Linked DNA regions of Homo sapiens: region 2 is linked to region 1. Evidence: fine-mapped expression QTL. A gene starts in region 1. The other region holds a variant in brackets. All regions are shown on one strand. Distances are between the middles of the regions.

Region 1 (5,376 bases):
ATTAAAAATAGGCTTCTAGGTCTAATGGATGAATTAACAAATAGATCCCACTCTCCTCAAGGCAGGATCACCTACACTCACAGAAGTTCCACAAGAATCAAACTTGGTACCAAAAAAAAATCACTTTGTTGCTATGGAAATGCCCCCTAAAGATGTCTGACCACTCATACCTGCATTTCACACTTTTTTTTTTTTTTGAGACAGAGTTTCCCCCCGTCACCCAGGCTGGAGTGCAGTGGCGCAATCTCAGCTCACCGCAACCTCCACCTCCTGGGTTCAAGCAATTCTCCTGCCTCAGCCCCCCAAGTAGCTGGGACTACAGGTGTGTGCCACCACACCCAGGTAATTTTTTTGTATTTTTAGTAGAGACTGGGTTTCGTCATGTTAGCCAGGCTGGTCTCGAACTTCTGACCTCAGGTGATACACCTGCCTCAGCCTCCCAAAGTGTTGGGTTTACAGGCATGAGCCACCGTACCCAGCCCATTTCACACTTTTAAAAATGAGATTTGCCCAGGCGTGGTGGCTCACGCCTGTAATTCCAACATCTTGAGAGGCTAACGAGGAAGGAATCACTTGGGCCCATGAGTAAGAGACCAGCCTGGGTAACATGGCAAAATCTTATCTCTACAAAAATAAAAAAATTAGCTGGGCGTGGTGGCACACACCTGTGGTCCCAGTTACTTGGTAGGCTGAGGTGGGAGGATCACTTGGGCCCGGGAGGTCCAGGCTGCAGTGAGCCATGACGGCTCCACTGCACCCCAACCTGACTGGGAGAGAGAGACTCTGTTTCAAACAAAAAAAGAGATTTGCCCAAGGAAAGTGTAATGGCAAGTGAGTTTCAAATGTGACTAGAGCTAGCAAACTCTTATCAGGATTGTCACATTTCCAAAAGTATCTTCTTTGGGCTTATAAATTCTTCAATCTCTGTGTATGTACATATTGAAACATGAGGCTCATGTTTTACTGTTGTGGGATTGGTTTCTTCTTGACAAAAAGATTATAATCACAATATAAAATGATCAAGGGTCTTAAAAAGAACTTTAAAAATTTAAGCAGGCTGGGCGTGGTGGCTCACGCCTGTAATCCCAGCACTTTGTGAGGCTGAGGCGGGTGGATCACGAGGTCAGGAGTTCAAGACCAACCTGGCCAAGATGGTGAAACCCCGTCTACTAAAAATACAAAAAAACTAGCCGGACATGGTGGCAGGCACCTGTAATCTCAGCTACTTGGGAGGCTGAGGCATAAGAATCGCTTGAACCTGGGAGGGAAGGGTTGCAGTGAGCTGAGATCATACCACTTCATTCCAGCCTGGGTGACAGAGTGAGACTCCATCTCAAAAAAAAAAAAAAAAAAAAAAAAATTTAAGCAATCAATGGATAATAACTAGGAAACAATACATGTATTATATACCCTTCATTGTATATCTCACCCCACACATGAATTAACTCAAGATGGATCATAGACCTAAATATTTAGCAATTATAGTCTGTATATAATGTGATTGATTACAGATCTGTATTTTACAATGCAACTGATTATAGCATCTGTACATGAAATGCAATCAATTACAGATTTTAAGAGGAAAAAAGCCTATTAATATCTTTCATGGTCAACAAAACTCTACCTCTCCTGCTGGTACTCAGTCCTGCAGTAGGTGCACTTCACAACAGGGTGTGCAATCCGACATTCCTGAAATGAAATGAGGATATAATTTTAAAAGGCAGTCACAAATGGAAACAGCCTTCAGTAGGAAGCCGACCTGGGTACTATTTCTAGCATAGCTACTATGCTTGAGTGAGTCACTTAAACTTTCTGGGCCTTATTTTTCTCCTCTGTAATACTGGCATCACTTCCCTACTGTTGATGTGGGAGTTAAGTAAGAACTTATATGGATTATATGGAACTAGCCATAAATTGTAAAACAAACATATATATGAACAAGTCCCAGACTGGGAATCAGAAGCCCTGAATTCCAGGCCTGGTTCTTCTGCCACTGTGTGATTTTGCGGTTTACTTGTGAAATGAAAGTGCTGGATTAAAATTATTATTTATATATACATAACTTCCTTAAAATCATATATACATATTTTGAGGCCAAAAAGGGCACTCAAGCACTTGCATTCCCCCAGACCTGGTATATAAAAACTGGCAAATGGAAAGTCATGACCATCTGAGGCAAAAGTGACAATTATGAGTTATCCAAATCAGAGACACAAACTGGATTATTGGATAACCTCAACATTATTCTTCAGCCAGTTTGGTGACTTTTTAACTGTTGCCTCACAGCACCTCTAGTCACTTAAAAAGTAAAAGTGGGATAAAGCAACTTAAAAGAAAAAGAGAAGTTGGACCTTCAGGAGCAAAAACTGATCAGCAGCTAGTCAGGGAAGACCGAAGACCACCAACTGGATGCTGAGAAGTGATCCCTCGGATCTGTGAGCCTGACTGTGGGGCTTTTTTAAAACATAAAGCCTTGCTGCCTCCGATTCTGAGACTGGCCGAAAAGTGAGATGCTTAAAAAAAAAAAAAAAATCAAGCCTTGCTACCTCCGATTCTGAAACTGGTCGAAAAGTGCCCGTGAGGAGCCCGAGTTCGACACATTCCTCCAAGGCAGCACCCAACTTTGGAGTTCAGTCCCAGGAGGGGCAGGAGGTCCCCACCAGGGAGACCGCGGCGGCGGGGGAGGCAGCGCAAAGGGATCCCGAAGGCGACCAGTCAGGGCAAGCAGGGGACCCGCTGTCCCTCCCCCGACCTCACGGGGTCCGAGAACAATCCCCACGGTTGCTAAGCACCCGGACACGCCGGCCGCGGGAGCCTGGACCGGGTCCCGGCTCCCGCACGTGCCCCGCCGGCCCCCAGCGGGGTGGGTGCGGCTCCTCAGCCTGGCGGGCCTGCCACACCCTGCTCCGGGGACCCCGCCGGGCGTCCCCACAGAATCTGGAGCTCCGGGCCGCGCCTCCTGCGTCCCCAGTTCCCGGCCGCCGCCCCAGCCCGCGCACCTTGCACAGCTGCTGCCCCTGAGACAGCGCCTCGAAGGGGAAGCGCTGGTGGCACTTGGTGCAGGCGTAGAGCGCCGCCATGTCCGGCCCGGGCCGCGCTCACCGACCCGCCGGCCCGGCCCGCCGATTTATCTGACAGTCTGAGGCACAACCCGGCGGCGGCTGCAGGCTGCTGGCTGCGGCAGGCGGGCGGGCGCAGGCGGGTCGGGGCGGACCCGGGCGGGCTGGGGCGGGCACGGCGACTCTAGACGCCCGCTCACTGGTGGGCTTTGACGTCGATCAAGTGGGAAGGGGCGGAACACGGAGCTTTCGCCCACTCTGATTCGGTCTGGCCTGGAGTACGCCACTGTGACGCTCCAGGCCGCGATTATGTAAAGCGCAGTCACGCGGGGGCGCCACCTGGAGGGGACAGGCTCCCGGCCGGGACCTCGGAAGAGCTTAGGCTCCGCCCTACTTGCTCAGCGTTCCCGCCCTCGCTCCGCCTCTCCACGGCCTCAGGCGCATCTGCGCTTCTCGCGATACCTTCGGGGATTTGTGATGTTTTGGTTTCCATGGAGCTGCCCTCTGGGAGCACGAGGGGTACAATTGGAACGAAGGCGGCGCACAGTTAACTGGAACTCTGCAGCCGTCCAAGCCCAAAGAAGGTGGGGAGCTTGGGAAAGAAGTTCCTCATAATCGGAGCAGGAGGAGCCCGCCCAGCCTCGCTCAAAGGAGGAGACGAGACTCTGAGGGACAATTTAGAAGTGTGTCCTCAATTTAAGACACCTAAATAGGGAACTGTGGGGCTGTGGGCCTTAGGAGAGAAAAGGAGAGCCCCAGAGAGAGCACCCCTATGCTGCGGAAGAGGGACTAAAGAGATGGCAGTCCTTCCAGGAGGGATTGGACAGATATTCAGGCGTCCGGTGGCCTGCAGGCCCCCATCAGAGTGGGCTGCAATTGGCCCAGACCTGCTTCCTACTTTGTTTTCTCCGGTTTCACCCCCAGCTTCTCTCGCAAGCAACCACCTGGTGATTCCTGACGAGGCCTGACTTCCGGAAGGCAAGCCACGCCCTCCGGGCTCCCCTGCCTCTCTTTGGCTCCAGCTTGGCATGTATAGGAGCTGCCCAAGGAATGACAGACTTCTTGTTCTTGAGGTGTTGGCAAAGCTTCCTGCACTGCTGACCTATCCAAGTCCTGCCTTGTAGCTGCTCTTGGGCATAGGTTACTCTTGGCTCTGCCAACCACCCGTACAGGACTAATTGCAGTTTTACCTCAACGTGCGCTTTTTACAATTAAAAACTGACTTAATGGCTTCTATTTCCCTGCCTCAACAAAAAAAATTTACTCTCTCTGAACCCAAATCTGGCTGCTTCCTTGTAGGATCCCCCAAAGATGTGCATTAATCATTAGGATCAGAAAGCAAAGTTTCCAAATCACTGTTCCACAACTAACTACATGACCTTGGATCTATCACTGAACTTCTCACGGCCTCGTTTTTCTCAATTGTACAATGAGGTCATTGTGAGAATCAAAACCAGTACATGAGTCGGGGCGGGATGGCTCACAACTGTAATCCCAGCACTTTGGGAGGCTGAGGCCAGAGGATCACTTGAGCCTTGGGATTTAAGACCAGCCTGGGTCGGCCGGACGCGGTGGCTCACGCCTGTAATCCCAGCACTTTGGGAGGCCGAGGCGGGTGAATCACCCGAGGATCACCTGAGGTCAGGAGTTCCAGACCAGCCTGACCAACAAGGTCAAACCCTGTCTCTACTAAAATACAAAAATTACCCGGGCGTGGTGGCAGGCGCCTGTAGTCCCAGCTACTCGGGAGGCTGAGACAAGAGAATTGCTTGAACCTGGGAGGCAGAGGTTGCAGTGAGCCAAGATCATGCCACTGAATTCCAGCCTGGACTACGGGGCAAGACTCCGTCTCAAAAAAAAAAAAAAAAAGACCAGCCTGTGCAACACAGTGGGACCCCATTTCTACAAAAAAACTTTTTTAAAAATTAGCCGGGTGTGGTGGCACGAGCCTGTGGTTCCAGCTACTCAGGCGGCTGAGGCGGGAGGATCCCTTGAGCCTGGACAGTCGAGGCTGCCCTGAGCCATGATTATGCCACTGCACTCCAGCCTAGGTGACAGAGTGAGACCCTGTCTCAAAATATATATGCAAATACAAATAAAAACAGTACGTGGAGGAAAATGTGGGGAAATTGTTTAATGGGTAAGGGGCTTTTGGAGTGATGAAAATGTTTTGGAACTAGATAGAGGTAACGGTTGTTCAACATGGTGAATATACTTTTTTTTTTTTTTTTTTTTTGAGACAGAGTCTGGCTCTGTCTCCCAGACTGGAGTGCAGTGGCGCAATCTTGGCTCACTGCAACCTCCACCTCCCAGGGGT
Region 2 (5,376 bases), 930 kb before region 1:
GGTGGTTTAATTTGGAATCCTGCTTACTTTCAAAAGTGAGCTGAGGGTTATCAAATAATAACTACATTTATGAGCACTTCTGCTCTACCAGGCATGATGTGGACACTTGGCATAAGCACTGTTGGCTCATTAGCGTGTAAGCTCCCTGAGCCAGTGACCACCTCCCAGCTCAGTGTCAGGGATATCACAGGCACACCCAAAATCTTACTCTTCAATATCTTTCCTTTTAAATTATTTCATTTTTAAATTAACTTTTAATTTTTTATTGTGATAAAATAGACATTACATAAAGTTTACCATTTTAACATTTTTTTTGAGACAGAGTCTCGCTCTGTCACCCAGGCCACAGTGCAGTGGTGCAATCTTGGCTCACTGCAACCTCCGCCTCCCAGGTTCAAGCAATTCTCCCATTTCAGCCTCCAGAATAGCTACTCCAGAGTAGTAGGACTGCTGGCGTGCACCACCACACCCAGCAAATTTTTGTATTTTTAGTAGAGGCGTTGTTTCGCCATGTTGTCCAGGCTGGTCTCAAGCTCATGACCTCAAGTGATCTACCCGCGTCGGCCTCCCAGAGTGCTGGGATTACAGGCATGAGCCACTGTGCCTAGCCAGAATTTGACTGTGCTAAGTGCTTCCTATAAGTAGTATTGTACAATATTTGTCCTTTTGAGTCTGGTTTATTTAACCTGGCATAATGTGTTCAAAGTTAATTCATGCTATGGCATGTTTCAGTACTTCATTCCTTTTTATGACCAAATAATATTTCCATTGTATAGACATCCATTGATTTGGTGTATCCATTTATCCTTTGATGGACATTTGAATTGTTTATACTTTTTGGCTATTGTGAGTAATGCTGCTATGATGCTATGAACGAGGGTGTACGAATATCTGTTCAAGTTCCTGGTTTCAATTATTTTGCGTCTATACCCCGAAGAGGAATTGCTGGATCACATGTTTATTCTGTGTTTCTTTGTTTATTTATTTATTTATTTTTGAGATGGAGTTTTCCTCTTGTTGCCCAGGCCAGAGTGCAGTGGCACGATCTCAGCTCACTACAACCTCCACCTCCTGGGTTCAAATGATTCTTCTGCCTCAGCCTCCTGAGTAGCTGAGATTACAGGCGTGCACCACCACGCCCAGCTAATTTTTTGTATTTTTAGTAGATTCAGGGTATCCTCATGTTGGCCAGGCTCGTCTCGAACTCCTGACCTCAGGTGATATACCCACCTCGGCCTCCCAAAGTGCAGGGATTACAGGTGTGAGCCACCGCACCCTGCCCTGTGTCGATTTTTTTCCTTTTTGTCTTTTTTTTGAGACAAAAAAAAGTCTCACTCTGTTGCCCAGGCTGGAGTGCAGTGACGCACTGTCAGCTCACTACAATCTCTGCCTCCCAGGTTCCCGCATTTCTCCTGCCTCAGCCTCCCAAGTAGTGGGGACTATAGGTGCACACCACCACGCCCAGCTAATTTTTTTTTTTTTTTTTTTTTTTTGTGACAGAGTTTCACTGTGTTGCTCAGTTGCAACCTCCGCCTTCTGGGTTCAAGCAGTTCTGCCTCAGCCTCCTGAGTAGCTGGGATTACAGGCACGCGCCACCACACCCAGCTAATTTTTGTATTTCTAGTAGAGACGGGGTTTCACCATGTTGGTTAGTCTGGTCTTGAACTCCTGACCTCGTGATCCGCCTGCCTCGGCCTCCCAAAGTGCTGGGATTACGGGCGTGAGCCACCATGCCCGGCCTTTTTTGGTTTTTTTGAGAGGGTCTTCATTCTGTCGCCCAGGCTGGAGTGCAGTGATGTGACCTCCGCTCACTGTAGCCTCTGCCTCCCAGGTTCAAGAGATTCTCGTGCCTCAGCTTCCCTAGTAGCTGGAATTACAGGCGCACATCACCAAGCCCACCTTTTTGTATTTTTAGTAGCATTCCAATCTCCCTTGGTTTAATGTAGAGGAAGGGATCCAAAGGCTTAGGGAAATTGGAACGCTAGAGTGGATTAGTCACTTTAGACCTACTCATCCCCACTGGGAGGGTCCAGAAGACCTATCCTTCACCATAGGGTATAACCTTGTGAAACAGATTTCTGAAGGGAGCACCCGTGTCCTTGAAGAGCTCTGTGATTGCTCCTCTCTGTATGCCAGATCGTACAGTGGGAACTGTACTCACTCAATTGGAAAACTTAAACGCAGTGGGAATAATTAAATCCCAAGGTGGCAGGAGCCAAGTGGCAACACTCAACCATCAAAGGCAAAGCAGATGTAGTTACCGTAATGGACAGCAGAGGCAAAGCAGCAATCGGAATAGTCTGACTCGTTGATAGAAAGCCTACTGAATTCTTTTTTTTTTCTTTTGAGACAGAGTCTTGCTCTGTTGCCCAAGTTGGAGTGCAGTGGTATGATCTCAGGTTACTGCATCCTCCCCCTTCTGGGTTCAAGTAATTCTCCCGCCTCAGCCTCCCGAGTAGCTGGGATTACAGGCATGTGCCACCAAGTCCAGTTAATTTTTTTTCTTTTTTTTTTTTTTGAGAGGGAGTCTTGCTCTATCGCCCAGGCTGGAGTGCAGTGGCGCAATCTCGGCTCACTGCAACCTCTGCCTCCCAGGTTCAACAAAGGTTTTTACAGGCTGGGACTACAGGCCCATGCCACCATGTCCAGCTAGCTTTTGCATTTTTTGTAGAGACGGGGTTTTACCATGTTGTCCAGGCTGGTCTTGAACTCCTGGCCTCAAGTGATTCACCCGCCTCAGCCTCCCAAAGTGCTGTGATTACAGGCATGAGCCACTAGGCCCAGCCCAATTTTTTTTTTTTTTTTTT[G/TG]AGATGGAGTTTTGTTCTTGTCAGCCAGGCTGGTCTTGAACTCCTGGCCTCAAGTGATTCACCCGCCTCAGCCTCTCAAAGTGCTGTGATTACAGGCATGAGCCACTATGCCCAGCCCAATTTTTTTTTTTTTTTTTTTGAGATGGAGTTTTGTTGTTGTCACCCAGGCTGGAGTACAATGGCACAATCTTGGCTCACTGCAACCTACACCTCCCGGGTTCAAGCGATTCTCCTGTCTCAGCCTCCCGAATAGTTGGGATTATAGGTGCCAGCCACCATGCCCGGCTAATTTTTTGTAGTTTTAGTAGAGGCGGGGTTTCGCCATATCGGCCAGGCTGGTCTTGAACTCCTGACCTCAGGTGATCCACCTGCCTCGGCCTCCCAAGATGCTGGGGTTATAGGCATGAGCCATTGCACCCAGCCCACCTGGCTAATTTTTGTAAATTTTTAGTAGAGACCAGGTTTCGCATGTTGGCCAGGCTGGTCTCAAACTCCTGACCTCAGGTGATCCACCTGCCTTGACCTCCCAAGGTGCTGGGATTACAGGCCTGAGCCACTGTCCCTGGCCCAATTTTTTTTTTATTTTTGTAGAGACAGCATTTTGCCATGTTGCCAGTAGTAGAGACTGGTTTCAAACTCCTTACCTCATATGATCTGCTGCCTTGGCCTCCCAAAGTGCTGAGATTACAGGTGTGAGCCACCATGCCCAGCACCTACTGCATTCTTAATTTGTATAAACAGAAAATTTCCAGGTTGAGTGGACAAAAGACTAATTTGAATTATAAAACAGAGACTCGGCCAGGCGTGGTGGCTCACGCCTGTAATCTCAGCACTTTGGGAGGCCAAGGCAGGCAGATCACCTGAGGTTGGGAGTTCGAAACCAGCCTGACCAACATGCAGAAACCCCATCCCTGCTAAAAATACAAAATTAGCCAGGCGTGGTGGCACATGCCTGTAATCCCAGCTACTTGGGAGGCTGAGGCAGGAGAATCGCTTGAACCTGGGAGGCGGAGGTTGTGGTGAGCTGAGATCGTGCTTTTGCACTCCAGCCTGGGCAACAAGAGCGAAACTCTGTATCAAAAAGAAATAGAGAATCATGGTCTCTCAAGCAATTTCCAGACTTGAGCCAGTTTACAGACCCAGAACTCCTTGAATGAAGGGGAGGCCAGGTCCCCTTGAAGAACGACCCCACTACACTATGGACAATTTATACTGCTAATCTTTCTCCCATATTTCCCCACGGAGACCTCTGGGCTAAGTTAATTGTGCATTAGGGAAAGGGGAATAATTAGACCTTTGAGGGAGTACTGGATGCTGGCTCTTAGCTGACATTTATTCCAGGGGACCCAAAACATCACTGTGGTCCTCCAGTTAGAGTAGGGACTTATGGAGGTCAGGTAATTACTGGAGTTTTAGCTCAGGTCCAACTTACAGTGGGTCCAGTGGGTCCCTGTACTCATCCTGTGGTCATTTCCCCAGTGCCAGAATGCATAATTGGCATAGACATACTTAGTAGCTGGCAGAATCCTCACAATGGCTCCCTGAGCAGTAGGGTGAGGGCTATTGTGGTGGGAAAGGCCAAATGGAAGCCATTAGAGCTGCCTCTGCCTAGAAAAACAGTAAATAAAAAACAATATTGGGCCAGGCACAGTGGTTCACACCTGTAAGTCCAGCATTTTGGGAGGCTGAGGCGGGCAGATCATCTGAGGTCAGGAGTTCAAGACCAGCCTGGCCAACATGATGAAACCTTGTCTCTACTAAAAATACAAAAAATTAGCCAGGCGTGGTGGCAGTTGCCTGTAATCCCAGCTATTCGGGAGGCTGAGGCAGGAGAACCACTTGATTCCGGGAGGCAGAGGTTGCAGTGAGGTGAGACTCCATCACTGCACTCCAGCCTGGGCAACAAGAGCAAAAGTCCGTCTCAAAACAAAACAAAACAATATTGCATCCCTGGAGATTTTGCAGAGATTAGTGTCACCATAAAGGACTTGAAAGACAAAGAGGTGGTGGTTCCCACCACATCCTCGTTCAACTCTCCTATTTGGAGAAGAAGGCAGGCGGATCTTGGAGAATGACAGTGGATTATTGTAAGCTTAACCAAGTGGTGACTCCAGTTGCAGCTGCTGAACCAGATGTGGCTTTATTGCTTGAGCAAATTAACACATCTCCTGGTACCTGTTATGCAGCTACTGATTTGGCAAATGCCTTTTTCTCCATTCCTGTCCACAAGGCCCACGAGAGGCAATTCGCCTTCAGCTTGCAAGGCCGGCAATATACTTTCACTATCTTACCTCAGGGGTATATCAACTCTCACAAAGCTGGTATATCCAGCTTTGTGTCATAATCTTGTTCGCAGAGATCTTGATCACTTTTCCCTTCCATAAGATATCACACTGGTCCATTACATTAATGACATCATTATGCTGATTAGACCCAGTGAGAGAGATGTAACAAACACACTGGACTTACTGGTGAGAGATTTGCATGCCGGGGAATGGGAAGTAAATCTGACTAAAATTCAGGGAACCTCTACCTCAGTGAAATTTCTAGGGGTTCAGTGGTGTAGGGC

Direction of the effects. Alleles are on the strand shown, and positions count from the first base shown. SD is a standard deviation of normalised expression in the study named.
As copies of TG replace G in region 2, the expression in CD4 T cells of the gene that starts at base 3,200 in region 1 goes up (large effect, 1.8 SD a copy in Kasela 2017).

What was found. PIP is the estimated chance that this variant, and not a neighbour inherited with it, causes the effect.
Region 2: its variant is fine-mapped to the expression of FAM76A in CD4 T cells (Kasela 2017, PIP 0.95).

The regions. Positions count from the first base shown.
Region 1 is chr1:27,723,785-27,729,160 of GRCh38, reverse strand. FAM76A (family with sequence similarity 76 member A) reads right to left here and starts at 3,200. Exons shown (of 9, transcript NM_152660.3): 1 at 3,000-3,200; 2 at 1,625-1,689. The coding sequence starts at 3,080. RefSeq lists silencers at 2,676-3,375, 3,214-3,856.
Region 2 is chr1:28,656,372-28,661,747 of GRCh38, reverse strand. No RefSeq gene overlaps it. Among named protein-coding and RNA genes, the nearest start is that of GMEB1, 9.7 kb to the left of the region's middle. The variant G/TG (reference allele first, on the strand shown) is at 2,808.